Linked DNA regions of Homo sapiens. The protein of the gene in region 2 purifies or fractionates together with the protein of the main gene of each other region. This does not show direct contact. Each region holds a gene or a part of one and is shown on either strand. Other genes may lie near its edges. The genes, in order: LUZP1, DHCR24, ERAP1 and ACTA2.

Region 1 (7,173 bases), about 32 Mb from region 2:
CAAGTAAAAGATGGATCTTTATGTGTTTTGTAATTTTTAGTTATAAGCTCAGGTTCAGCTGGACTTTAATCTGTGGGAATCCTGTGTGACCTCTGTAGAGAGTGGCTCCCTCCAGAGTACTTTTGTTTGCTCAGCTAGGTTTCCCAGGGATATTACTAGGCTGATGGCCATTTTATGTTAGTTTCTCAGGACAGATAGGTTCTAGACCACTCAGATGGTATAAATTTGAACTCTGAATTCAAGTGAGAGCAGGTCTAAGATTATAAATTCTCTAGGGATAATCCTCCTTTAACCCCTAATAGAGCCCGGGTCCTCTTATCTCCCTATATCAGGGAGGTGACTTTTTTCACTAGTTATCCTGGAGCTGTAGTTCTTCAATAATCCTTGCTTTAGATTGGGGACTGGAGTCTCATTTTCAACTTACCACCTCTATTGAGCCCAAACTCTTGCCTCTTATACCTGCATGATTGTTAGAACCCAAACTCCTTGGTTCTGGAGATCGGCAAGACCCTAAGAAGGACAGCTCAGTGGTAGTTTAAACTTACTATTATTTTTCATTTAGTTTTCTTTTCCTCTGGTTTTAGCTGGAATGTCACTTACTTTCTATGTGATCAACTATACATTTTAAGTGATTGTTACATTTTATTCAGTATTTTTAGCTGTTTTATAGTATTAGAGGTTTTCCAGGTTATCTGGTTTGCTGTAGTGGTGGAAATGGAAGTCTGTTGTTTGCCTTTTAATTTCGTAGGACTTATTGTTCATGAAAGCTGTTTAAAATACATTTATCAATCCATTCTCCTGTTTTAAAAATGAGAAAATTACATAAAAAAACTAAACCTTCCCCTTTCTCTATTTCCTTGGGGTATTATTATATGTTTGGTATATATCCCCAGTGAAATGGCTTTCAAAGAAACAAACCAGTCTTCATACCAACCTTAACATCTGGGGCATTTCTTTTACAGTGCAAAAGGATATGTTTTGTAGAAGCTGCCTGTTGGCTGGGTCGGGCCAACTCACACCTGAATTCCACTTACAAATATACTTTTGGGAGAAGAGATGTTGAAAATGGGTGTAGAGAGATTGTTTTAGTATATTGTGAAGCTCACCATTTATAGCAAGGCAGAGGGTTAATTTGTATCACTTTTAAGTCACAATAGCTCATAAGAGATAATCTTTAAAAAAAAAAATCTTAGGATTGTTTATTGCTTTGTTACCAAGATCTTCCACATATTATCTCAGAACAACACTGGGGAGAAATACGGTAGACATCATTATGCCCATTTTACCACTAAGTAAAACTGAGACTTAGTTTCCATTGTTAATGACTCTCCTGAGATTATGCAGGTTGCAGATGGTAATGATGTTATTATACCCTGCCATGAAAATTGAGGCTTCTTATATGTCTTTTTGCCATGCTGCCACTGGTGACATTCTTTATTAGGGCGAAATGAGGTATCAACTCAATATCGGCCATAAAGAACCAGTGTTTTCTTGCAGGTTTATTCAAGTCATTCATTCAACAGGTTTGAGCCCCTGCTATGATCCAGGCACCAGGAACAGATAGGAGCACTTTTCTATAACTGGGAGCTAACGTGCAGGTTTTACATTTGCTGACTGACATGCTTTCTACTTTCCTTTTGTAGATTGATGATGGTCTCCAGCTGTCAAAGAAGATTGTGGTTGCCAAGAGAAAGGTAACCATTTCTCATCCCCTTGAGTGGAATTGGATGCCTCTAGGAGCCCACATTGGCTGGCAGTAGACATGGCCGAATTTACAAGCTACAAGGAGACGGCCTCCAGCCGCCACTTGCGGTTTAAGCTACAGAGTCTAAGCCGCCGCCTTGATGAGTTGGAGGAAGCCACAAAAAACCTCCAGAAAGCAGAGGATGAACTCCTGGATCTCCAGGACAAGGTGATTCAGGCAGAAGGTAGCAACTCCAGCATGTTGGCGGAGATTGAAGTGCTGCGCCAGCGGGTGCTGAGAATTGAAGGCAAAGACGAGGAAATTAAGAGAGCAGAGGATCTGTGTCGTCTGATGAAGGAGAAACTTGAAGAGGAAGAAAACCTCACCCGGGAGCTGAAATCTGAGATTGAGCGGCTTCAGAAACGAATGGCTGAATTAGAGAAGCTAGAAGAGGCCTTCAGCAGGAGTAAGAATGACTGTACCCAGCTGTGTCTGAGCCTGAATGAGGAGAGAAATCTGACCAAGAAAATCTCCTCTGAGCTGGAAATGCTCAGAGTCAAAGTGAAAGAACTAGAATCTTCTGAGGACCGCCTGGATAAAACTGAGCAGAGTTTAGCGTCAGAGTTAGAAAAGCTGAAATCATTAACTCTGAGCTTTGTAAGTGAGAGAAAATACTTGAATGAAAAGGAGAAAGAAAATGAGAAATTGATAAAAGAACTCACTCAAAAACTAGAGCAGAACAAAAAAATGAACCGAGATTATACAAGGAATGCTTCTAATCTGGAAAGAAATGACCTACGGATTGAGGATGGCATCTCTTCCACACTGCCGTCCAAAGAATCAAGAAGGAAGGGTGGTCTGGACTACCTAAAGCAGGTAGAGAATGAAACAAGAAACAAATCAGAAAATGAAAAGAACCGCAATCAGGAAGACAACAAAGTCAAAGACCTTAACCAAGAGATTGAGAAACTTAAGACACAAATCAAACACTTTGAATCGTTGGAAGAAGAGCTTAAGAAAATGAAGTCCAAAAATAACGACCTTCAGGATAATTACCTAAGTGAACAAAATAAAAACAAATTATTAGCCAGCCAACTGGAGGAGATAAAGCTACAAATCAAGAAACAGAAAGAGTTAGAAAATGGAGAGGTAGAAGGGGAAGATGCTTTCCTGTCCAGCAAAGGCAGACATGAGAGGACTAAGTTTAGAGGCCACGGAAGTGAAGCTTCTGTGTCCAAGCACACAGCGCGGGAACTGTCTCCTCAGCATAAGCGGGAACGACTCCGGAACAGGGAGTTTGCTCTCAACAATGAAAACTATTCTCTGAGCAACAGGCAGGTTTCTTCTCCCAGTTTCACCAACAGGAGGGCAGCAAAAGCTTCTCACATGGGGGTGAGTACAGACAGTGGGACTCAGGAGACAAAGAAAACTGAAGACCGGTTTGTACCCGGCTCCTCCCAGAGCGAAGGGAAGAAGTCTAGGGAGCAGCCCTCAGTGCTGAGTCGCTACCCCCCGGCTGCTCAGGAGCACAGTAAAGCGTGGAAGGGGACTTCCAAGCCAGGCACCGAGAGCGGACTGAAGGGAAAAGTGGAGAAGACAACACGAACGTTTAGTGACACCACCCATGGATCTGTTCCCAGTGACCCATTGGGTAGAGCTGACAAGGCTTCTGACACCTCCTCTGAGACTGTCTTTGGCAAGAGGGGACACGTGCTTGGCAACGGAAGTCAAGTAACTCAGGCTGCAAACTCTGGCTGTTCTAAGGCCATTGGAGCCCTGGCCTCATCTCGAAGATCCTCCTCAGAAGGGCTCTCTAAAGGCAAAAAGGCTGCCAATGGCCTTGAGGCTGATAACAGTTGCCCGAATTCCAAGGCTCCTGTTCTATCGAAGTATCCTTATAGCTGTAGAAGCCAAGAGAACATCCTTCAGGGATTTTCAACCTCACATAAAGAAGGGGTTAATCAACCTGCAGCAGTTGTGATGGAAGACAGCAGTCCGCATGAAGCCTTGAGGTGTCGAGTCATCAAATCCAGTGGCAGAGAGAAGCCAGACTCAGATGATGACTTGGACATAGCATCTCTTGTTACTGCCAAGTTGGTAAATACAACCATCACTCCAGAGCCAGAGCCCAAACCACAGCCTAACTCTAGAGAAAAGGCTAAAACCCGAGGGGCACCTAGAACCTCCCTATTTGAGAATGATAAAGATGCTGGAATGGAGAATGAATCTGTGAAATCTGTCAGAGCCTCCACCAATACCATGGAGCTCCCAGATACCAATGGTGCTGGGGTAAAAAGCCAAAGGCCCTTTAGCCCCAGAGAGGCGTTGCGGTCTAGAGCCATCATCAAACCTGTTATTGTTGATAAGGATGTGAAAAAAATCATGGGAGGATCTGGAACAGAGACTACGTTGGAGAAACAGAAACCCGTCTCCAAACCAGGGCCAAACAAAGTGACAAGTAGCATTACTATATATCCATCTGACAGCAGCAGCCCCAGAGCTGCTCCGGGTGAGGCCCTGAGGGAGAGGCACACATCCACTAGCAATATCCAGGTGGGGCTGGCAGAGCTCACATCAGTTAGCAACCATGTCAGCTCCCCTTTTGAGCTCTCCATTCACAAACATGACATCACCCTGCAGCTTGCAGAAGCGGAGAGAATGGCAGATGGGCCCCTGAAGGACAGGCCAGAAACAGTGGTCTCTCGGAGCAGCATTATAATCAAGCCATCGGATCCTGTGGAGAGGAATAGCCATGCACCTCCAGCGGAGACAATCAGGTGGAAAAGCCATAGTGCCCCTTCAGAAGTGGGCTTCTCAGATGCCAGACATGTTACTGTGCGGAATGCCTGGAAGAGTAGGCGAGACTTGAAATCTTTAGAAGACCCCCCAACTCGAATAGGTAAAAACGTGGAATCTACCAATAGCAATGCCTACACCCAGAGGTCTTCCACAGACTTCTCAGAACTCGAACAGCCCAGGTCCTGCCTTTTTGAGCAGGGCACTCGAAGGGTAGGACCAAGTTCAGGGGATGCCCCTGAGCCCTCCTCCAGAAGGACCCAAAGTAGCCTCACTGTGTCAGAGGTGCTTACCCGTCGGAATCGGGTAGGAGACACCATCACTGTCGCAGCCTGGAACCACTCAGCAAGCATGGTGAGTTCCAGCCTCTCTCCCCTCTCTCTTTTCTCCCTCCCTTTTCCTTCTTTGCCTTTTCCTTTTTCCCCTCTGCTCTGGCCTGTGTGACCCAGGATCTTGAGAACTGAGTAGAACTGGGTTCCTTAGAGAACTGTTGAAAAATCAGGGGGGTTTGACCTTTCTCCTAAAGAAGGTTTTTGGCAGCATCACTTTCCAAAATCCCTTTTCCAATTTGTTGTCTTCATTTTGCTCTCGTATATGAAGGTGACATAAAAAGGAAATCTGTCTTCTCTTCCCTTGGTTTGCCAGAGCAGCTAAAGGAGCTCCCCGTAGGCCCTCAGAACAGCATGAAAAGCACAAGAAGCAGCTGCAGCTGATGGGGAGCTCTGGGCAACAGGAGGAGGCCCGGTGCCCTTTCTGTAGGGCACAGTGAGGGGGAGCCAGGTCAGCAAGTTCTCGGCCGCCTCAGTTAGCAGATCTTCACAGGCTGCTGGCCTCTCAGGGATGAGGAGAGCCGGGGCTTACACTGGGCCTATTTTAGATAAGCGTATACCCAATTCCAAGTGACACTTTCTTTTGCCCCCCAGACAGCTGTCTGTCTCATATTATCAGTCTGAGGGCAGGGCTGGTTCAGTATAGCTCATTACAGCTTTGATAAATCCAGAACCACCTGCCTTATGTGAGTGTGAGGCTCAGGGTGTCAGAACAGCATCTGGAGAAGCCCCTGGGAGTGTCTTTTTGATGAGAAACCTGTGATGATGAAAAACTTCTTGGACCTGGACACAGTGCTCCCTTCTTTAAAAAAGCAGATGACTCTGTTAACTTGAAAAGCCCTGTGACTCTTTACAGGGTACTTAACACTGGACAAAAGTACTTCACTACCCACTATCTTATTCAGTCCCTTGAATATCTGCCTGGGGGCAGATATTATCCCCATTTTTCAGATGTAGAAGCTAAGGGTCAGAAACACAAAATATCTTACCTAAGGTCACCCAGCAGAATTACTGGAAGAGCGAAGACTTGAATCCAAGATTCCTGTCTCTAAATCCAATGCTCTTTCTACTCTAACCTTTCTTACTCATGCCTATGTTATTCTTTGATCTGCATTTGCTTGGGAGAACCAAGGAGAATATTAAAAAGGTAGAATTCTGGCCAGGCGTGGTGGCTCACACCTGTAATCCCAGCACTTTGGGAGGCCAAGGCAGGCGGATCACAAGGTCAGGAGTTCAAGACCAGCCTGGACAATATAGTGAAACCCCGTCTCTACTAAAAATACAAAATTAGCTGGGTGTGGTGGCACATGCCTGTAATCGCAGCTACTCAGGAGGCTGAGGCAGGAGAATCACTTGAACCCAGGAGGCGGAGGTTGCAGTGAGCCGAGATCGCACCATTGTACTCCAGCCTGGGCAACAAGAGTGAAATGACGTCTCAAAAAAAGAAAAAAAAAAAAAGCCAGGTGTGGTGGTGCGTGCTTGTAATCCCAGCTACTTGGGAGGCTGAGGCAGGAGAATCGCTTGAACCCAGGAGACGGAGGTTGCAGTGAGCTGAGACTGCGCCACTGCACTCCAGCCCGGGAGACAGTGCGAGACTTCGTCTCAAAAAAAAAGGTAGAATTCTAGGCGTAGGGAGAAAGACAGCTATTTGGGCCCCTGAAGCTTTGGACATTTAAGAGGAGAGATAAAGGATGAGAGACGGGAATGTGAGCTTTTTGGTAGTTTGTATGTGGGAAGGAGGAAGAGAGCTGTCCGGACCTCTCTTCAGCTCCCCATCAAGGATGTGGACCTCATCCCCAGAATCATGCGGCCTGCATGCATGTGCAGAACTCGGAGACTGCTGGCCCCTCCTCAGGGGTGCTAGTCCCATGCCCCCATTCCAGGCTCTATCCTCTGTAAGGCTCCTGTTGAGTTGTGAGCCTCCTCCTAGCCTACCCTGATTGTTCCCAGCAGCTTGGAGTTCCCAGTCTGCCGATTTCCAAGGAATTTACATATTGGCCCATACTCAGGCAAAAGCATATCTTTGCAGTTAACTTATGGCCTGTCTGGGCTATATCTGCCTCTGCTGGGTTGGAAAGGACCCACTATGGTAGCAGGTGAGGGTGTCTCGGTCCTCACTTTACTGACCTCCACAGCTCACTTTTGTTATTTATTGGCACAGGAGGAAGAAGGGGAAGACTGTACACTCAGTGTCTACAGGCAACTGCACAACTCCCTGGATCCGTCTGAACTGCCTGGGAAGCAGGGGCTGCCAGAGTCTGGGCGAGTACGGGCCGAGGAACGATTACGGCCAACCAGGCCCTGTGCTGAGGAGAACTGAGCCCGCTGGGTGTCTGTTGTCTGCCCTCTGCTCCTGCTTCTCAG
Region 2 (7,000 bases):
TGGGCTACAGAGACCCTGTCTCAAAAAAAAAAACAATAAGAAAATAAATAAATAAAAATAAATAGGTCTCGAAGAATGCACACAAAACTGTTATACGTAAGTGGTTACACCCTGGCGTAAAGAGATGCACTTTAACTTTTTCTTTATATATTTCAGCATTGTTACATTACTTTTATAATTTAAAAACTTTCAAAAAAATCCATACAGAGAAAGAGGAAATAAATACAGTTGTCTCTCAGTATCCATGGGGGATTTGTTCCAGGATCCCCCAAAATCCATGAATGCTCAAGTCCCTTACATAAAATGATTTAGTATTTGCATATAACCCTATGCACATCCTCCTGTATACTTTAAATCATCTCTAGATTTCTCACAATACTTAATACAATGTAAATGCTATGTAACAGTTAAGGAATAATGACAAGAAAAAAAGTCTGTCCATGTTCATTTCAGATGAAACCATCCGTTTTTTGGCCCCTGAACGCTTTCAATCTGCAGTTGGTTGAATCCACTGTTGTGGAACCCACAGATACAAGGGGCCAACTGTGTACCAAACACATTAGCAACACTGGCTTTGGGACATATTTACAGGTGGAGTCTTTTCTTTCCTTTTTACTTGTTTGTACCTTCCAAGTCTCTTACAATAAGCACAAATCCTTTCCAAGTCTCTTACAATAAGCACAAATCCTTTCTAAATGGAGAAAAAACTGCTAATAAAAATTGCATGGTATATGTGGAAGGAATGTCAATCTAGATTCCAAGGCATCAAATCGATTACTCGAATCTTGTGGAAGTTTACATTACCTCTTTTAAGTGTTGGGATTACAGGTGTGAGCCACTGTGCCCAGCCTACATTACCTCTTGAAGACTCAGTTTCCTCATCTATAAAATGGGTTTGCTATAAGGACCAAAGATTACATCCACTAAGAGACAAGCACATCCCAGGCAGGTGGTAGGGGCAGAGTAGATGAAAGCTTCCATCACTGTCTAATACATTTCTGATGATAGATCCTGTTGCCTGTACCCCAGGTGGGTTGACCCAGGCAGCAGCCTTGAAGAGGTGGCTGCCAGGGTCAGGATACGGGAACCGGCTCAGTCCTAGCACACTCATGCCTCCCCAGTCTTGGTCAGCAGCAGCTGACACCCTGGCTTACCTTGCTGGGCTCTGCCTCATCTGTCATGACCCCTGTCATAATGACAGCCTCATCCAGGGAGTAGAGCAGCCCTTCCACGAAGTGGTTCTCCTGCCGCTGGGACTCGTGGGTGAACTTGGCACAGATAGCCTCCAGGCCCCGCACTGGCTCGAAACGCAGCTTGACGTACTTCTTGGCAGGGATGATGCGGATCTCAGCGGCCACCAGGAAACCCAGCGTCCCACAGGACCAGGGTACGGCATAGAACAGGTCTGAGTTTTCGGACTGTGAGACAGAATTGATGTGTTGTGAGCTGAAACCTTGGGCCCCACATTGTGGCATGCAGTCAGTGGGGGAGCAAAGCCTGGGAGAGTCCCTATTCTCTCACTCTCTTGTATAAACCCAAACAATGAGCTTTACAAACTGTGCTTGCTGGGCTTTAGTTTCCTCCCTGCAGCTTCGACATGACATGGAACCTAATACTGCCCTCTGTCTCAGGGACCCTCACTGAGAGAGCATCCTCCTTCTCCCATCTAGGTACAGCCCCTGACCCAGAGGCTATTCAGGAAAAAGCTGGGACTGGCACTGCTGCCCAACGACCCACAATGGCAGGGGCATTGCACAAGGGCAGGAGTCCAAGGCCAGGCCTTGACACCCTTTAGTGGGTGTCAGGCAGTGTAGCTGGGGAACATTAAAATGCCTCCCTTCTGAACCATTACTAAAATTTACAAGGCCTTTCCCAGTCCATCGGCTTGTGGGATCCACCCCCGACAGAGCCCAGGGAGAGCGCTAGCACCCCCTTATGACAAGTAAAGAAACTGAGTCTCTCAGAGCTGCCATGACTCACCAAAGTCTTCCCAGAAAAGTCAGCTGCAGCAATGCCAGGGCTCAGGCAAGACCACCTAACTCCCCGGCCAGCGTTTTTCCTACAACACCTCATCTGCTTCCATAAATCAATGTCCAACCTCATCATTTTATTGTTTTGACATTTGTCTTGGACACAGACAACTGACTTTTCCTTGGCCATTCTGATTGGGATTCTTCAGTTCTAGTAAAGAAAGCTCTTTTGAAAAAGTCCAGCCATGTCTTGCCTTTACTAAGAGGACAGCCCTGTGCAGTCTCCACAAAACCTGAATGCTCTTGGTGGTGGGCACAGTGAATGCAGCAGGGCAGGAGAGCTGGAGCAAGGAGGCTCTGCAGCAGGCTGGCAGAAACCTCAGGAACAGCAGCACTACGCTCACCAATTCCCCCTTGGGCCCACAGCTAATCACATTCTCCTGGCCATGGCAGTGAAGATGACACACTTGCTGCATGCTGAGCTCTATGCAAGGAGCTTCCCATACAGGACCTACTTATTCCTCTCAACCACATATTTGTCAGTGAGGAACCTGGGCCTCAGAGAAGGGAAAGAATTCACAAATGTCAGTCTCCTTTCTCTGCCGATAATAAATAGGTCAAAAGACAGGGCCCCGCAAGCGTTCAGGAAAGCAGGATGAATTGATGTGAATCTTGCTAGGGGTATCTCTCATCCAAGACCAGTGCTGCCAAGCTGGGAGTCTTTCCTTGGGCCCTCTTCTGTGAAGTGAAGGAGTCGGGTGGCTCCCTGAAATACCCACTTCAACAGGACCAACTGTCCCTCCCATCCCAGGGGTCCCTCACACCTGCCAGGACAGATCCAAGGTTATTTAAAGTGTCACTCCTATCCCACCCCTTAGGTAAAACGCTTTAAATGTTTGAATCCCAGTTTGGGTGGTAGAAGTGTTTCTTATTTTTCTAAAACATCCTCTCTAATCACTTTTACTTACACGATTACGTGCTACATAAAGACGTTGCAGTCAACAATGGGCCACAGATAAAATGGTGGTCTCATAAGATTATAATGGAGCTGAAAAAGTCCTGTTGCCTAGTGGTATCACTGCTATCACAGCTATCCTAATGTCATACTCATGTGTTTATGGTAACACTGGTGTAAGCAAACCTACTGTACTGCCAGTTGTATAAAAGTATAGCACATATAATTATGTACACTACATAATACTTGATAATGATAAATGACTCTGTCATTGGTTTATGTATTCACTACACTACACTTTTAATTGTTATTTTAGAGTGTACTCTTTCTGCTTATTAAAAAAAAGTTAACTGTAAACAGCATCAGGCAGGTCCTTCAGGAGGTATTCCAGAAGAAGGCATTGTTGTCAGAGATGACAGCTCCATGTGTGTTATTGCCCCTGAAGACTTTCCAGTGGGACAAGATGCGGAAGTGGAAGCGTTATTGATAATCTTGACTCTGTGTAGGCCTAAACTAACATGCGTTTATGTCTTGACCTTTTTTCTTTGAGACAGGGTCTTGCTCTGTCACCCAGGCTAGAGTGCAGTGGCGTAATCACGGCTCACTGCAATCTCTGCCTCCCAGGCTCAAGTGATCCTCCTGCTGCAGCCTCCACAGTAGCTGGAAATACAGGAACACATCACCATGCCCAGCTAATTTTTGTATTGTTTGTAGACCATGTTGTAGGCCATGTTGCCCAGGCTGGTCTCAAACTGCTAAGCTCAAGCAGTCCACCTGCCTTGGCCTCCCAAAGTGCTGGTATTACAGGAGTGAGCCACTGCACCCAGCCTTGTGTCTAAGTTTTTAACAAAAAAACTTTAACAAGTTAAAAAAAAAGTTTAAATAGAAACAAGCTTATAGAATAAGGATATAAAGAAGGAAACTATTTCTGTACACCTGTACAATGTGTTTGCATTTTAAGCTAAGTGTTATTACAAGAGTCAAAAGTTTTTAAAAAGTTTATAAAGTAAAAATGTTATAGTAAGCTAACAGTATTTATTATTGAAGAAAGAAAATTTCAAAAAATAAATTTAGTGTAGCCTAAGTGTACAGTGTTTATAAAGTCTACAGTGGTGTACAGTAATGTCCCAGGACTTCACATTCACTCACCACTCACTCACTGACTCACCCAGAGCAACTTCCAGTCCTGCAAGCTCCATGCATGGTAAGTACGCTACATAGGTGTACCATTCATCTTTTATACTGTATTTTTACTGTACCTTTTCCAAGTATAGGTATGTTTAGATACATAAATACCATTGTGTTACAGCTGCCTACAGTATTGAGCACAGTACCATGCTGTATAGGTCTGTAGTCAAGGAGTAGTAGGCTATCCAAATAGCCTACGTGTGAAGTAGGCTATCTCATCTAGGTTTATGTAATTACACTCTTATGATGTTTGCACAATGACAAAATTGCCTACAACTTGTTTCTTATAACATATCCCTACTGTTCTGTGACACATGACTGTACCTCACAGTGTTAAGACACACAGCTTTGATGCCAAGGCCTGACTTCCTCTCCAGAGAGGCAGGATGGCATAATGAACGGCTAAGGGACCTGGGAGCCTGATTACTGGGGTGTGAGTCCCAGCTGTGTGACCTATGGCAAATAATCTCTCTGAGCTTTAGTTTCCTATCTATAAAATAGGGATAATAATCCTTCTATTATTTAATAATAATCTATAAAATAGGGATAATAAACCTCCCTCATTAGGTTGTTGAAGGATAACATGCATGCCTTAATATATATAATGGATTTACAACATTGCCTAAGCTCATATAAGGGGCTACACAAATTTTTGTTTACAGATATAGACCCAGACTGAACAGGTACTGGGAATGAAGCACACCTAGAGGAGCCACCTCCCTGACCTCAGGATCCTTAATGCCCAGAGCAGGCTGGCATGGACATCTCCCATTGCTGAACTCACCGGAGTGCATCGCACAAAGCTGCCATCAGCCAGGACCAGCTCGTAAGCAGTGCAGATGTGTTGGAACAGGCCGTACTTGTGGGATGATGACTCGATGCCTGTGCCCATGATCAAGCCCCCTGCAGAGACATCACACACAGTGTCAGCAGGGAGAGCTGTGGGTACAGGGTTGGGGGTGGGTTGGAGCTGGGGGGCCTCCTAGCATGAGGGAGGTTTGGCAGGCTAGCAGAAATGGGGCTGTTGACTTAGGGGAGATTTCCCACCTGTCAATCTAGAGAGCAGGAGAGGGAAGGAGGGGCTCAGATGGGAGCATGAGGGTGTCCTTAGAGGAAGGGAGTGGCGAGCAGACCTTGTCAAGTGTACTCACACCTCACCTCTGGCCAGACTCAACCTAGAAATCTGTGTGCATTCATCTTGAGAGGGACTTTAATGAAAAGGGGGGTTGAAGGGGTGACAGGAAGCCCTGTCCCATGGGAATAGTTAAAAGAACTGAAGGTGTTTTCCCTGAAGAAGAAGAGGCTTTGGGGGCTATGAATCCTATGGGAGGAGAAGAGAGACTATACTTATTCTGTGTGTTCCATGGGGGGGAATTGGAGCAATGGGAACAAGTCACAGGGAAGCAGATTCAAACCAGAAATTAAAAGTGCCTTCTGATAACTTGAGCTGCTCAGAAATGGAACAGCAGGCAGTGAACACCCTGTCATTGGAGCAGGCAAGTAAGAGACTGAATGACTTCTGTCACAGATGGAATAGCGGCAATTCCAGGACTAGATGGAGGGTGGCCAAGGCCCATCAGCTCCGGTCCTAGGACCGTGTGTCTCTTCTTGCCCGTTAATATAGGGTCCTCACCCACTGTGAGGTCATCAAGCTCAGGCAACACGGGGAGAGTCCAGCCAATGGAGGTCAGCAGGGCAGTCACCTGGCCCATGGTCACCAAGGGCTCCACACGGACAATCTGTTGACACAAGAAAAGAGACCCTGGGTCAAAAGGAGGCTGCCAGGCCCAAGGGGAGCTGCTGCACACAGAAGGTGTCATCTCAAACCTTCCCAAACACTCACTGCAGGGATTCCTATATAGCCTTTACAGGCTCTTTCTAGAACATTGCCTTTAATTACAGGGAATGTGATTTCTGGCTCTCGGTTAGCTAGTGTTCAACCTCGCCCTTCAAGTATCTTTATACTAAATATTTGACTTAACCTTTTCTAAATTACAGGAGAAATACTCATTCACTTAGAAGATACAGCAAAAGTGAAGAAGAAAACAAAAATCACCCATCCTGGCTGGTCGTGGTGACTCATGTCTGTAATCCCAGCACTTTGGGAGGCCAAGGCAGGTGAATCATCTGAGTTCAGGAGTTTGAGACCAGCCTGGCCAACTTGGTGAAACCCTGTTTCTACTAAAAATACAAAAATTAGCCAGGCGTGGTGGCGGGCACCTGTAGTCCCAGCTGCTTGGGAGGCTGAGGCAGGAGAATCACTTGAACCTGGGAGGTGGAGGTTGCAGTGAGCCGAGATCGTGCCACTGCACTCCAGCCTAGGCAACAGAGTGAGACTCCGTCTCAAACAAACAAAAAAAAAATTCACCCTTCCTAGTTCTTCAGAATTACTAATGTTAATAACACAGTGTATTTACTTTGGTTTTTTTTTCCCCACACATACTGTATTGGTACTGTGAACCGCAAATATCAGAGACAGGTCTCAGTTAATCCAGAAAGTTTATTTTGCCAAGATTGAGGATGTGCGCCTCTGATACAGCCTCAGTACGTCCTGACAACATGTGCCCAAGGAGGCTGGTGCACAGCTTGATCTTACACATTTTAGGGAGACAGAACACATCAATCAATATATGTAAGAAGTATAGTGGTTCTGTCCAGGAAGGCGGGGACAACTTGAAGCAGGGAGAGGGCTTGCGGTCACAGGTAGATAAGAGACAAATGGCTGCATTCTTTTCAGTTTCTGATAAGCCTTTCCAAAGGAGCTAATCAGAATATGCATCTATCTCAGTGAGCAGAGGGATGACTTTGAATAGAATGCGGAAGCAGGTTTGTCCTGAGCAGTTCCCAGCTTGACTTTTCCCTTAGTTTAGTAATTTGGGGGCCCCAA
Region 3 (8,087 bases), on a different chromosome or scaffold from region 2:
CCAGCCTGGCAACAGAGCAAGACTCTGTCTTTAAAAAAAAAAAAAAAAGGCAATGTGAATTTTAAGGAAGTTGGCAAACCATGCCCCAAGCATCAAACATAAGTTTTTATTTCTTTTATACAAACGCACCTTTCTAATGGGTGTTTGCCAAGAGGGGCCCATACCAGGTGAATGCAAGTGATTGGCCCAAACTCCTCGTGTTCCAGTTGGGAAAAGTAGCAAGCTTACAATGTGGATCCCTCAAAGTGTTCACAGTACATGGAATTCTCCCTCTCTGAGATGTCAAGTTTCCTAACTCTGGCTGCATATTAATGTAACCTGGGAAGCTTTTAAAATTTTCGATGCCTGGGTCCTTATTGACAACAATTAAACTGGAACCTATGGTGATAAGATCGGGGTATGGTTTTACGGATTGTTTAATTTCTGGTTTTTGGTTTTTTTTTTTAAAAAAAAAAAAAACTGTCCAGAGATTTTACTGAGAAGCCAAGGTTGAAAAGCTCATCCTTGCCAAATCCTGGCTTTCCCCCTTCAACTCTATGTGATAGGATACTAATTCAAGGCAATGGCTGAAGTGCCTTCCCTAACCCCTGACTTCCTTGCTCCCTTCCCAAATGCACAGCTCAAGGGAATTCCCTTCTCCTCACCTCTGGAGCAATCTGGAGGCTAAACAGAAAGGATACCTACACATTAGAGAGAGTCTTGGAAATCTCATAATCCCAGTTCAAAAGGCACCACCCAGGTGAGACAGGAAGTGTGAACAGGGAGAACATTTTTTTGCCCTTGAAGTTGGGGAACTAGAGAGTAAATGGAACTTGTGTTTTGCTTTCCATATGGAATTACTGGCAGCAACAGCTTAATGAGCATCGCCCCTGCCCCAAGACGGGATCCAGAGGACTCTGTGAAGGTGGCAGGTTCAAGCATGTAAGGACTCTGAAAGTCCCCGAGACCTCTCCAACAGCCCCAGAGAAGATCTAGAAATTCCAACTCGTTATGAGCTGACAGAAAGGCTGATGTGCTGCGGAAGGGGTTGGTACCGGGACCTTGGATCAGAGGCTTTGCAGGGTTGGGTCCATGAGGGGTCCAAAGAGAAACAGTTATGTCTCAACGAGGATGCAGTGCATGAGTGGGGCTTGGTAAAAACTCCATGTAGTGAATAAAGGGCTTCACTAATAAATTCTCTTATTAATCCCAAACTGTAGGCTACATCCAAGATTCTGTGATCATGTTCGTGTGTTTGGCTCTTCCCCTGAAAAATTAGCTCTTGTTTGGCTTTGCTTCCAATAGTAAGTGTTCCAGTTTGAAACATGGCATTTCATGGTTCTGGCTGGTCTCCTAGGGTCTGGTTTTACTAACAATTTTCTGAAAGGGAGGCAGTTAAAAAAAAAGAAAGCTCTCAAAAACAGTAGTCTACTCAATATAAGCAGCTCTTCCCAAGAGAAGTACAATTCTCTTTGAAGTTACACTCCACTAACACTTAAAGGAATAGAAGCCAAGGAGGAAAAAGAACTAATATTTACTAAGCTCCTCCAAAGTGCCAGGCACTTTACACATGCTCACTCTCTCTAATAGCCTATTATTCTCATTCAAGGTGGGGTAACTGAAGCAAAGAACCATTCATGTAACTTTGCTAAGTTCACACAACTTGTTGGAATGCAATCCACATCTGTGTGAGTATAAACTCCCTGCTTTTTCAGCTTCACCAAGATCCCTCTTTTTTTTTTTTTTTTTTTTTTTTGAGACGGAGTCTCGCTCTGTCTCCCAGGCTGGAGTGCAGTGGTGCGATCTTGGCTCACTGCAACCTCTGCCTCCCTTCCTTTTATTGGGGCACTATAGTATATGAAATAGATCATCAAGAAGTAATTGAGGTTCTTCCAGAATTTCCTGAACAATGAAATTAACAAGCACTGTTGGTAAATAATAAAAATGCTGGATTAATTTGAAAAAAAAAAAAGTACTAGAATGTTTCTATTCAGGCCGCACCTGAAAATGTGCTACTTATACTAATTAAAAATCCTCAGGCAAGAGACAACTGTGCCCAATTTTCAAGTTTTTTGTTTTGTTTTGTTTTGTTTTGTTGTTTTGTTAATTGTTGACCACGTCCTGAGTTCAGAGCGAATCCTCTGGGTGTTTAATAGGAAACAGATAATTTCTTTCTGAACCTAGCCTACACAAAGAAATCCAAAAGCGTGAGGAAGTGTGTGCTCTCCCCCTTCCCCTCATGGAATTAACTTTGTAGGACCACCTGGCCAGTGAGGCACCCAGATAGGAAACTTTTAATTTGCGTCAACAGAGGTGCTTTATCTGAATAAAACCCAGCCAGAGCCAGAGCGAAGGGGAGAGAGAGAATTGCTGACCAGAAGAACAGGAGAAGCAGGGAGGGAAGTGACCTTAAGAACACACACGGCCCGCGCATCCCACCCCACCAGAGTCTTTAACCCAAAGCCTCTGGGTTTCTCTAGCAGCTATGGGCAGGTGCCCTCCTCAGCCCGAGCCAGCTGCCCGCCCCACCCCGCCTTTTGGCCTCGCGCGGGCGTCGGTGGCCTGCAGGACTGGCAGGCATCCAGGCGCCAGGCGGAGCGCTGAGGGAGGCTCCCGCCGGCCGAACAGCGGGGAGACCCGTGAAGCAGGCGCACCGGCCACGCGCCCGGAGGGACAGGGACAGGGACCGGCAGGGGTGGGCCCGCCGCCAACCCGCCGGGCACCCCGCGGACTCGGGCCTAGCCAGCGACTCCCCCCGCCCTTCCCGCGCCCTGTCTCGCGCCCCGTCGCCTTCCTCCCGCGCCCCGTCGCCTTCCTCCCGCGCCCCGTCTCCCTCCTCCCGTGCCCCGTCTCCCTCCTCCCGTGCCCCAGGCCCTCAGCCCCCCACTTGACGGGCGCAGGGAAGGGGCGGGTGCCGCGCTCTCCTCCCGGCCCGCAGTCCCCTACCCGCGGCTCGAGCGCGCTGTACCTGGGGTTCTGGGGCCGCCCTCACCCTTGCGCCGCCGCCACCACCACTGCCGCCGGCCTAGCTCCCCCAGGACCGAAAGTGAAAGTGGAGCCCGGGGAGCGGCAGGCTGGCGCTGAGCGGCGCTTCGGCCCGAGCCCTAGCGGCAGGCGGGGAAGCCCCTGGCTAAGGCGGGAGCTGGGGAAAGGGTAAACGGGAGTGGGGCCGAGCGAGGGAAGCCGCAACTCCCAGGAAGGGAATTGGTAAATGAGCGCTGCACGCCGGGGAAGCTGCGAGGTTGCGATGCGGGGGATCAGGCGTAGGAAGTGCACGCCTTTCTGAACGCGGATCCGTGTGTGTGTGTGTGTGTGTGTGTGTGTGTGTGTGTGTGTGTGTGTGTGTGTGTGTGTGTGTGTGTGTGTGTGTTGAGATGCTTTTTGTTTTTGTCTTTTTTTTTTTTTCACTGTTTAGCGTTGCGAGGGTTAGGGGCATGCAGGAAAGGGCCGGTGCTCAAGTTGGGGACCGAAGCCAGGCAGGCGCTGACAAGTCCACCAAGCCTAGACGCGTTCGACGCCCATTGGACTCGCTGGGTGTCCGTCATCTCGCCACTGCCAGTGGGCTGAGAGCTCTTGGCCCGCCTCGGAAAGAAACATGAACCCAGTACTCTGTCGTGGCAAAGTGCCGCACCTTCTGGGGCTTCGGTAGAGAATGACTACAGTGGGAGATGCTGTAGAGGAGGAAGGTGGGTTAGAGGTGGCCCCCAGGACTTTCCTGCACTACCAAGGGCCACTGTACCCCAAGGATTAGCTGCTTCCCGCATCAACACGTTCCCTCTGATTTTTCAAAGTAAATGACCATTTCTTCACTCCCCTTAGAACAATTAAAGCTGAATAAAATGGCCAAAAAGACCATCTTTAAACAGTTGAGGCTAAATGAGGTAACAAGTCAAGAAAACACAAACATTAAAACACCAAATGCTACAAGTTTATTACCGAAAATGGGTCCCGATCCAGACCCCAAGAGAGGGTTCTTGGATTTTGCGCAAGAAAGAATTTGAGGGGAGTCCATGGAGTAAAGTGAAAGCAAGTAATTAAGAAACTAAAGGAATAAAAGAATGGCTACTCATAGGCAGAGCACCCCCAAGGGCTGTTGGTTGTCCATTTTTAGGGTTATTTCTTGATTATATGCTAAGCGGGGGAAATTATTCATGCCTCCCCTTTTTAGACCATATAGGGTAGCTTCCCGACGTTGCAGTGGCATTTGTAAACTGTCATGGAGCTGGTGAGACCGTAGCAGTGACGACCAGAGGACACTCTCATTGCCATCCTGGTTTTGGTGGGTTTTGGCCAGCTTCCTTACTGCAACCTGTTTTATCAGCAAGGTCTTTATGACCTGTGTCTTGTGCCTACCTTCTATCTCATTCTGTGACTTAGAATGTCTAACCTCCTGGGAGTGTAGCCCAGTAGGTCTCAGCCTTATTTTACCCAGCTCCTATTCAAGATGGAGTTGCTCTGGTTCAAACGTCTCTGATAATTTGGTGAGTGGACCATGGTCCTAGTGGGAACAGGACCCTTTTCATGCGGTTCTCAGACTTTCTTCTCCCACTTCTTTATTGGCCTTCTTCCCTTTGAGAACTGGGGATTCCAAGTCACTGCAACAGTATTTCTCTTTTTTTTTCAATATTATGTTTCCTTTTTAAAAATATAATGTTTCATACTGCCTATTATCTCTAGTCAAGGACATTTTATAATATAAAGATTAACACCCTGTTCCAAGACTCAACTACGGTGGGATCCAGGGAAGTTTTTTTCACTAAAATTCAACAAGAAATGAGGACTTTGAGATCTGGTAATTTCTGCATGTTCAGAATTTGACAGGAGGTATCAATGGATAGCGTGTAGCCTCCAAGACCTCCAGACATCTCGGAGTGCTCCCAGTTTACTCAAGATGAGACCTCTTTGTCCAGTAAATGTATGCATTTCTTTGCTTTTATATTTATATTTTTGAATATGATGGTTTTCCTTTGGCTTCTAGTAAAGTTTTTTTGTTTTTGTTTTTGTTTTTTGTTTATGTGTCTTTTTAAATACATATTGAAAGTCCAGCTGGCAGAACTGAATGCACCCAACAGGCTGGAGGTTAATACAGAAGACAGCTGAGGAGACAAACAGGGCAATGCCCTGAATGGATGTGGGCAGAAAGGAGCTGAAGTGTAGGCGAGGAGAGAGCTGACACCACCACCCGCTCCACGCCGTTTCCCCAAAAGCTCACCCTGACTCAGACTTTAGCCTGTCGCCCTGGCCGTGATTTCGTCTTTAGAGTTGAAGTGCACTACAAAGAGCGATAAGTCAGAGGATTTGGCAGCATTCACTTCTAGTTTCAAAGCCCTAGCAGGGATGTAGAGGACACAGACCTTGGAGTAAGGACTTTAAGGAGTCCTAGTTCTAGAGCCTGTGAGATCAAAACAGCACATTACCGAGCTTAGAAATGGTTAGAAGGAAGGGAACAGAGAGAAAGGGTACCTAGGTTTATTGATTCCCTACCAACTGTTAGATACTGTTAAATGCTAGCTATGTGTGCATGTGTGTGTTTATAATTTGATCTCTTCAGCAACCCTGTAATGTAGATATTATGCTTTATAGATGAGAAAAATGAGACAGGTCGGCAACTTGCTCAGAGTCAAAGAGAAAACACACACTAATTCTACTCACATTGCATTGGCCAGAACAAGGAGGGGTTGGTAAACACTAATATTGTATACCATATAGTGTAGGAGGGCTGGTTGGCCGGTTGAGCCCATCCATTGCAGAGGCTTCTCAGTGTCCTTAGTCCCAGAGGTGAGCCAGAGGAATGAGGAGAATTTCAGGCCTAGGCCAATGAAATACATACCACTTTGAGCTATTACTGATCTACTTAAAAAATATTGAATTCTAGATATTGTCAAGTGATGTTCAATTTTGCTGTAATTGATTGATTCAGTTCTGCTTTCATTAGCTTTTAGTCAATTAATGTCAGCGTTTGGCTCATTTCTTCTGTTTTGCTGCCAAAGCTGCTCCTATTTTAATCATATTACCACTCTCCTTTTTGATGTAAAATCTCATCCAGAATCATGGTGTAGAAAACAGACAAAAGCAGGCCTGCTCTTATTAAACAGGGCAGCTCCACCCAGTCAGCCTTGCCCACTGCTATCCGGCCCTTCCACACACATTGTGGTCCTTGAGACTCTTCCATAGGCTCCCAGGGCCTTAGAACTTAATTTTTTTAAATGCCAATTTAAAAAAAAATAATAATGCCCCTCATTCTTGATATTCTTGATAAAGAGGATGACTTTTTTCCCCCTCTGTGCCAAGTTGCAGAGCAGGCTTGCTTAACAAAAGCAATACCATCTTATTAATAATCAGAAACAGGGAAGACGGTACAGATGCCATGTTAAAGACTGTTCCAAAACAGGCCACTGAGCTCATATCAAATAATAAAGTCCTCTGAAATGTGGCAGCTTGAAAGCATTTACATATAGTCTATCTCATGGGATCCTCACATTGTACTTATGCAGGTGGCTAGTAGCTCCATTTTTCTAGAATGAGGAAACAGGATTAGAGATGTGAAGTGACCTACCAGGGGCCACCACATGGAAAAAGCCTGCTTTAAAGTGAAGCCAGTTCAAAGGACAGCAGGGCTGACAGAGACAGAGAATACCTCCACTAAAGCCCTCAGCTCCAGCTGTCCTGAGCAAATCCTGTCCTTAGACCTTCCATTCAAGAGGACCAATGCTTTCCTTTTTGATTTAGCCAGTTGGAGTCAGTCTTCAGAGAGAGTCCTGTATTACCATACAACAGAGCACTATGGGAGCGAGCAATGTATGCCAGATTCTGTAGGAACAACTCAAGCAAGTTGAGTGACCACAGCTGCCCTTGAACTTCTAGAATTGTGGATCCTGAAGAACATTCTAGGTGCCACGAGGACTGATCACATGTTTCCCATTTTCCCTCCCTCAGGCATTTATTTCACAAGATACTGCTGTCTAAGGTAACCTGAGCATGTTTCCAGTTCTTGCAGCCTTACAGAACCCAGGGAATCCACCTGTCTCCAACCTTCCTCAGTAGGTGACAGGCCCATCTAACTGCTCTCTAGCCAGTCTTCTGTATTCCTGTTGCTTTTACCTTTGCTCGTGTCAACAAGGAGGTAAGTCACCATGACATATTTCTTAAATTTGTATTTCTTTCATCACTAATGAGACTGAATATATGCACTGAACATATGTTAATTAGCCGTTTTTGCTTTGTGTTTTCTCTTTTGAGAATTATATGTTTATGTTTCTTGTCCATTTATCTACTGGAGAATCACAATTCAGTTATATAAAAATTATCTATGACACACAAGAGAAAGCAATGAAATTTCTTTAAAATGCAAAGTGTCATAGTCAGTAAAGCTCTACTATTTCAAAGAAAACCCACAAATGTGTCTGGATAAATCATGTCAATTTCTTAAAAACCCAGATCTATACCCGTTATGGTGAGTTGTTTGAAATATCAGAATTTACTAGATATTGTCAATATGAACAGATTAAAGCAAACCTTTGTTTAGGAGGCTTTATTTTATTTATGGCTCCCTCTGCCACAGCTATTTCACAAAGAAAGAATGAATTATCCAGCCAGGAGTGAACATGATCTTTGCATATGCCTAAAGGAATGATAAAAATATTGGGATGAAAAATATGTAGATTTGTTTATTGTTATTTTTTGAGGGACCATGGTGTTATGCTACTAACTGTCTTGCCTTAGCTATAATGAATATCTGTTGCAATAACTAAACATGGGAAAAATAACTTTTCAAAACCTTAGTTTCTAGAAGGTTAATGGATTTTATTATATTGAAATTAAATGAGCTATGATACAAAGGAGAAAAGGAAAGAAACGAATAACTTTCTCAATGAAGTTCTGTAAAGTATATACAATTGGGGCCTGAAAAGAGAAACTCATTTATGCTCATCCATACATGGCAGTGTGAAATTGACAGAGTTTGGCTTAAGTGAAGTCTGTGGTTCTAGGAATGCTTGCAATTTATTGGAAAATTAGATTGTGATTATGGAAGAAATGACTCAAGTGGTCTTCAGGCCACCACAGCCTTTCTTTTTTTTCTTTCCCAACCCTTCCTAAGAGACAGTTCT
Region 4 (7,173 bases), on a different chromosome or scaffold from region 2:
TTGCTAGCAAGCCATAATTTCCAACCATTTTTTTTTTTTTGCCTTCACACCACTGACAGGAACAATAATTCATCAGAAGCAACATCTCTTGCGACGTGCAGTGATTCCCAGGCCCACAGATGTTCCCCTGTAGAGAACAAGTGCTAGTGGGTTGGTGCAAGCACCAGGAGCTCTTCTGAGGAAAAGGCCTTGCAGTTATTTACATTTATGATTCTTCAATGCTGGAAGATCGTGGATCAATCCCAGGCTTTGCCAGTTCTAGCTGTGTGACCCTGGGAGAATTACTTAATGTATCTGAGCCTCAATTTCTTCATTTATGTAGTCAATATAATCATAGTTCCTGCTTCACATTGCTAGAACTTAAAGAGACAATGAATGTAAAATGCTGAGCCCAGTACTTGACCATAACAAGTATAGAATTGACACTAGACGTTGTTATTTAATAGCTCTTCCAAACTAGAAAACTCAGAGCTCTGTCTGGTGGGCTGGATGGGATTCTATTGTGAGGTCTTTAGCTTCAAACAAGTAATAATAATGACAATAGTAAGTACTATATTTTGGATGTTTATTAGGAACCATGATACACATCTGTCATTTCACCTCATTAATGTTCACATCAATCCTTGGAAAAATGATAGTATTAATATTACTCCCAACTTATAGACAAGGAAACTGAGGCTCTGAGAAATTAACGGAGTTCTTTAAGGTCACATAACTGATAAGTGGCAGATCCAGTTTTCAAACCTAGATATGTCTGACTCTGGAACCCAAATTCCTATTGTATGTGATGCTGCATTTTGAAGTGACTTCTCCTTAGACATTATAACTTAAACGTGGCCCCTTCTCAGTGAAATCTTTTAAATTTCCTATTGCTTTTGGAGGCAAAGGGCTGGTCCCTGCAGGAAGGATGCAAGTACTTTCAAGCTGTTCCTGTCCTTTGGGATCCCTGAGTTCACTGAAGGCTGTTAGTCTGTTGGTGGACTCCTAGCTCCGGCCTTCTCTCTGCTGTGCTGCATAGCCTCCTTCTAACAGAAGTTTCCCCAGACCCCACAGTGTTGTGTGCTGGGGTAGCATACTTACTTGAGTCATTTTCTCCCGGTTGGCCTTGGGGTTCAGGGGTGCCTCCGTGAGCAGGGTGGGATGCTCTTCAGGGGCAACACGAAGCTCATTGTAGAAAGAGTGGTGCCAGATCTAGTGAGTTGGGGGACAGAGGAGAAACACAATGATGTGCTGTCATGAGGTCCTGCATTTCCCAAAAAGGGACCAGAAGCTACTTGAAACCAAGACCAAAGGAAATGCTACAAGTACTCATGCATGTGTCCATGGTTTTATAGATGCAGAGACTGAAGCTCAAAGTGTGTAAGTACCTTCCCAAAGGATTCACATCTACTAAGTGACTGAGCAGAATCCCTAACCCAGATCTGTGAGGCAGGATGGTATGGCAGTTAAGGGCACAACCCTTGATCAAACCTTGGGTTCAAAGCCCAGCTCGGACACTTCTTAGTTGTGTGAGCTTAGGCAAGTTTTTAACCCTTCTCAGCTTCAGTCTCATGATTGGTAATAGGGAGATGAAAATAATTAGTGTGTACCTCATCGGGTCTTTGTGTAAATAAATAAGGTAACCCTCGAGTTATTGTCCAGCCCAGTGTCTGGTCCAGAATCAATGTTATTATTATTCAACTCTATTTTCTTTGTTCTCTCTTCCCATTTTAATGTTCATGGGAAAATGATTTAATTTTGTAAATAAAAAGACAAATGAATGTATATATGAATAAATGACGCTTACTTGAAAACCTAATTGACACTTTTAATGCTTCTAGAGAAGTTGCCCTTTGCAGTGTACATGAAGAAGAGAACAGGGCTCTCTGACTCTTGCCTCCATCACCCTCTTTGCTCTCGAGGGATGAGAAAAGCTTCCTCTATCAGCACACTCTGGATCTTCCACTCACAGTCAGACATTTGGCCTTCAGGTGTTTCCAAAAGGCCCACGCCTGTGTATAGTGTGTCTATGTGAAGGTACTTTGGACATAACTACATTTATTTATGGTTGAGCACTTTCTTTAATTCCTAGATGCCGAAAAGAACAAACCATTGCAAAAAGGACTAAATTAATTAATCTTTAAAAGCACGAAAATTCTCCACCAGAGCCAGGAATATGAGATTCACTCAAAATCAAAACAGAGCAAAACAAGAACTGCTGGTGAAAGCTTACAAATTAGCAAAACCAAGATTAGCTTTAAAGACTATCTTATTCCACTTTCTTTTGTTTTGGATTTGTGGTTTATAGAAGGGAAATGAAACTTCTGAAAGTTTTGTTTCTTTAGTGGAGTGAAAGCAGCAGACTGCTCAAAAAATCCTGCCAGTCACAGCAAGCAACCTTTCTCCTCTCTCTCTCTTCGTCCCCACCAGAAGATACTTTGAATTTAAATTTTAGAAATAAGGAAAGTTTTTTCTTCCAATAGTCTCTGTCTAGGACGATACATTCTAAGATGTTGTCAGCTCCATGGAGAAATTCTAAAAGAATATTTTCCTATTGATATTGATATCTTTTTCTCTGTGCAAACTGCAATCTTACCAAATCTAGAATCCTCAAGCAAACCTACTGATATGAAATTTTTGTAGAAAGATAGAGCTTGGAGCATTACTGCTGATAAATTCTAACAACATTATGTATTTTTCTTTTAAGTGATAAATTGTGTGCGTAGTAGTAGTAGTGAGCCGATAGATAAATAAAAGGCCAGATATCGTGATTCTGATATATCTTGCTGCATTTAAAATTTTTTATGTCACTTTCTCATTATTTCTTCTGTTTTTTTCTCTGATCACTGGTGTCTGTAATGTTTAATGACCAAACATCAAAATCTTAGAATTTAGCTCTTCTTCTCATTAGCTCTTTTATTAAGTGTCTGGGAGATAAGGCCTCATGTAATGCAACACAGATAAATAATTTTTAAAATATTTATCATATAGCTTTTTTCAGTGGCTCTTGTGCTTCAGTGTGTGGAGAGGCATTCAGAAATGTACCAAACCTGCAATGTTACACTCCTGTTTACTATAGTGAAAACAAAAACATTTTTAATTTAGATGTTTAGAGTGAGTTAATGAAAACCTTTCAAGAATGGGCTGTTTAAGACTACTCCCAGCATTTCAAGCCCCTTTAGCTATATTGCACTGAGAGGGATAACCATGCAGCCCCTGATGAAAATGAAAGGAGGGTTTTCATTCTCTGAGCTGCTGCTCATGCACTGCTTGTCCTAGGAGGGCAACAGAGTTGACGTGAGCAACAGATGATTAATTCCCTGCAGTGGCAAAGGGCTACTCTTCTCATCTACAGAACTATCATCCTTTAATTAGTTAATAAAACCTAATAGGCAAGGACATTTTTTTCCTTTTCTTTAGAGACAGAGTCTTGCTCTGTTGCCCAGGCTGGAGTGCAACAGCTGATGGTATGATCAGCTCACTGCAGCTTCGAACTCCTGGGCTCGAATGATGCTACCACCTCAGCCTCCTGAGTAGCTGGGACTACAGTTGCATGCCACCACACACTGTTAATTAAACCTTTTTTTTTTTTTTTTTTTCAGTAGAAACAGGGTTTTGCTATGTTGCTCAGGCTGGTCTCAAACTCCTGGCCTCAAGTGATCCAGTGCTGAGATTACAGGTGTGAGTCACTGTGCCCTGCAGGATTTTTTTCTTCTTTTTTTTGAGATAGGATCTCACTCTGTCACCTAGGCTGGAGTAGGATCTTGGCCCACTGCAGCCTCCATATCCCAGGCTCAAGTGATCCTCCCACCTCAATCTTTCAAGTAGCTGGGACTGAGGTGTGTGCCACCATGCCTGGCTAATTTCATTTATTTTTTGTAGAGACAGGATCTTACTATGTTACCCAGCCTGGTCTCAAACTCCTGGGCCAAGCGATCCTCCCACCTTGGCCTCCCAAAGTGTTGGGATTACACGTGTGAGCAACCATGCCTGGCAAGGGATTTTTTTTTAAAGAAACATTTTAGGATTTTTTTTTCTTTTTTTTTTAAATTTTATTATTATTATACTTTAAGTTTTAGGGTACATGTGCACAACGTGCAGGTTTGTTACATATGTATACATGTGCCATGTTGGTGTGCTGCACCCATTAACTCGTCATTTACATTAGGTATATCTCCTAATGCTATTCCTCCCCCTCCCCCCACCCCACAACAGTCCCCGGTGTGTGATGTTCCCCTTCCTGTGTCCATGTGTTCTCGTTGTTCAATTCCCACCTATGAGTGAGAACATGCGGTGTTTGGTTTTTTGTCCTTGCGACAGTTTGCTGAGGATGATGGTTTCCAGCTTCATCCATGTCCCTACAAAGGACATGAACTCATCATTTTTTATGGCTACAAGGATTTTTTTTTCAATGGGTAATAACCCAGAATGAACATTAACAAGTAAAAGTACAGTTGAGCAATGTGAGCCAGTTATTTCCCCAGCAGTAGTGTGGTGTTCTGTATCAGAGAACACAGGGATTATGCATCCTGAGGGCCCAAGCTGCAGCAAACCTCCCATACCTTTTCCATGTCGTCCCAGTTGGTGATGATGCCATGTTCTATCGGGTACTTCAGGGTCAGGATTCCTCTTTTGCTCTGTGCTTCGTCACCCACGTAGCTGTCTTTTTGTCCCATTCCCACCATCACCCCCTAAAAAGGTTCAACACATTATGAGTCAGCATCTCCCAAAACTTGTGAATCAATTACAGCCAAGCCACAAAAGGTTAAGTCATTGAGATGGGAAGTTCCTCTTCTGATTATCAGCAACAATAAACATATTGAGTCTCATTGCCACTATGCTCTTAAGCAAAATTCTGCAGTTGATTGGAAAAAGACCTGAATTGCCTCCAAATAACAGGAGATGTTGGGGGAAAGTCAACTTTACTTTGTATTTTTATCTCCTATGTTCCTTGATGAGCTTTTTTAGGGCAGAGATCATGTCTGTCTTGTCCATCACTATAGCAAATTGCATGGCACATATGTGGCACTCAATAATTATTTGTTGAAAGAATGTATACAATTTTACATATTTGTTAAATGGCATTTTGTGTCTTATAAATCCTTTAAACTGTACTTTTAAAGTCATCACCTACCCAAAAGAATATGAGCATTATTTTCTAACTATTATAAGCAAAAGCATTGCATCTACAAATAACCACTTGAGGCTTGATTTCTAATGGATAAGTTCATACCAATCAACTGTTAAGACATTTGCCTAAATTAGTCAGCTGCATTTAAAAAAAATCATTAAGGTGAAGTTCTTAAAAAATTATTGTTACTAGATTTTAAATTGCACTGCAGTGACTATTTTAGAACTACAAAACAGCCATGGCTACTATGGACCCATAAAATAGCGGCTTGTGCAGAATATCTCCACTGCATAAAGATCAATGAATTCAGACAGACTGCATTCATTGGGAGAGGTTTCTATTATTTATTCTCATGAATATATCCCAAGCAGAGAGGCATAAACATCAATCAGATAGCCTCAATGCACAAACTACATTTCTGATGTGAAGAAGAATTTCTGAGGTGAAATTACTGAGTTTTTACCATGTGATGCCACCAATACTTTGTTTACACATAATGTGTAAAATTACCATGCGGCTGTCCAAATATATTTTGTTGACAGGTAATATTATGTAAAATTGCATTTGGTATCGATGCTTGCTTTCATCTAACATCAGCCCTGTATGGTTAAGTGACCTGGACTTTTATTTTAGTTTCTTTCCAAACAGTAGCTTTGGTATACATCAGGATAATGTATAAGCATTTCTGATGGTGATGAAATGATTTGATGATGATGATGATGATGATAATGACTATATTTAGACAAAAAGGACATGAAAAAGGGGCAGACTTTGTATCTGATAGATGCCCATCAGATAATCTGTCTACATTATATGTGAAATTGGCATTTACTCCTGGACCTTAATCATTAGAGGTCTATTTGTAACAAGGTTACATAACTTCTGGGCAGAAAGAGATAGACAATCTGGGGATAAACATGAACACAGAGGAACCTAATCTGTGTCCTGTTATGTTCCAATCATAATTTTCCTCACCTGATGTCTGGGACGTCCCACAATGGATGGGAAAACAGCCCTGGGAGCATCGTCCCCAGCAAAGCCGGCCTTACAGAGCCCAGAGCCATTGTCACACACCAAGGCAGTGCTGTCCTCTTCTTCACACATAGCTGGAGCTGCTTCACAGGATTCTATAGAAAACAGGGAGGAAGCAGCCTCAGCTGTAATTGGGCATTTGTGGCACTTACCTGACAACTCCCACCTCCAAGGCTGGGTTTGGGGGCCCTCCTCTGTGTCCTAGTGCTATCCTCTGACCCTTATCTAATATAGCATGTATCTGGAAGTACTTTAGTTACACTATAAGCTTTCAGTAAGCTGAAACTCTGACTTCTGAAACTCTGACTTCTATGTTGATACAACCTTAGTGTAGTGACCGGCATATCATGTGTTCTCGTGAGCACTTTAAAGGTGGATAGAGCCAGTGAATGAATAAACAAACTGCAGAGCACAGATGGGAAATCCAGAGTCTGAGACCAGATCTTTGCAGAGACAAGTTGCCTACCTTATGTTAAAGAAGCATCTAGATTTTCCTGTCTGTATCAACCCAAATGCACATTTTTCTAGATATGCTATACCTTTTTGAAATTTTTTCAAAAAGCTAGATTTTTGAGGGACAGGCAGCATGTAAAAATTTAGAAATGTTAAAATGGTCAAGTGTTTAATGGAAAAATCTTTTTGAATCATGAGGACTTTTACTTTACCCTCAGAGAAGCTTTGAAATAAAATTTTCTGAGAAGGTGCTTTAAATTTTAGGGGCTGCAATTATCCACCGTTAATAAAAGTCACTGTTAAGCTAACAGTCCAACAAGTGAGGGTGAGCCTGATGGATTATATATCATATGGTAGAATACTTTACTGCCATTAAAAAGGTAGAGTAAGAGGATAAGCAAAAGGTAGTTCTTATGTAAGAGTAATAGGTTAGAAAAAGTAACATTGTAAATCTCATTAAAAATGTATTTTTTATGCATTGCAAAAAGATTAATCATATTTACCAAGATGTTGACTGAGGTTATTATGAAGTGGTGGGTTTTATAGGTGTTTTTAATTATTTTCCCATGGTTCTGTCA

The links.
Region 1: the proteins of DHCR24 (region 2) and LUZP1 purify together in Homo sapiens (affinity purification with mass spectrometry; 3 studies listed by BioGRID and IntAct, with this or other methods). This does not show direct contact.
Region 3: the proteins of DHCR24 (region 2) and ERAP1 purify together in Homo sapiens (affinity purification with mass spectrometry; 4 studies listed by BioGRID and IntAct, with this or other methods). This does not show direct contact.
Region 4: the proteins of DHCR24 (region 2) and ACTA2 purify together in Homo sapiens (affinity purification with mass spectrometry; 3 studies listed by BioGRID and IntAct, with this or other methods). This does not show direct contact.

What each region holds. Positions count from the first base shown.
Region 1 is NC_000001.11:23,088,851-23,096,023, reverse strand, and holds part of LUZP1 (leucine zipper protein 1), read left to right. Parts: intron 1-1,643; 5' UTR 1,644-1,762; coding exon 1,763-4,834; intron 4,835-6,970; coding exon 6,971-7,129; 3' UTR 7,130-7,173.
Region 2 is NC_000001.11:54,870,196-54,877,195, forward strand, and holds part of DHCR24 (delta(24)-sterol reductase precursor), read right to left. Parts: intron 5,853-7,000; coding exon 5,747-5,852; intron 5,017-5,746; coding exon 4,898-5,016; intron 1,419-4,897; coding exon 1,155-1,418; intron 1-1,154. UniProt on the Homo sapiens protein: Catalyzes the reduction of the delta-24 double bond of sterol intermediates during cholesterol biosynthesis.
Region 3 is NC_000005.10:96,804,913-96,812,999, forward strand, and holds the start of ERAP1 (endoplasmic reticulum aminopeptidase 1 isoform b precursor), read right to left. Parts: upstream 3,034-8,087; 5' UTR 2,948-3,033; exon of another isoform or gene 2,546-2,947; intron 1-2,545. UniProt on the Homo sapiens protein: Aminopeptidase that plays a central role in peptide trimming, a step required for the generation of most HLA class I-binding peptides.
Region 4 is NC_000010.11:88,942,717-88,949,889, forward strand, and holds part of ACTA2 (actin, aortic smooth muscle), read right to left. Parts: intron 6,238-7,173; 5' UTR 6,215-6,237; coding exon 6,086-6,214; intron 4,671-6,085; coding exon 4,542-4,670; intron 1,192-4,541; coding exon 1,081-1,191; intron 1-1,080. UniProt on the Homo sapiens protein: Actins are highly conserved proteins that are involved in various types of cell motility and are ubiquitously expressed in all eukaryotic cells.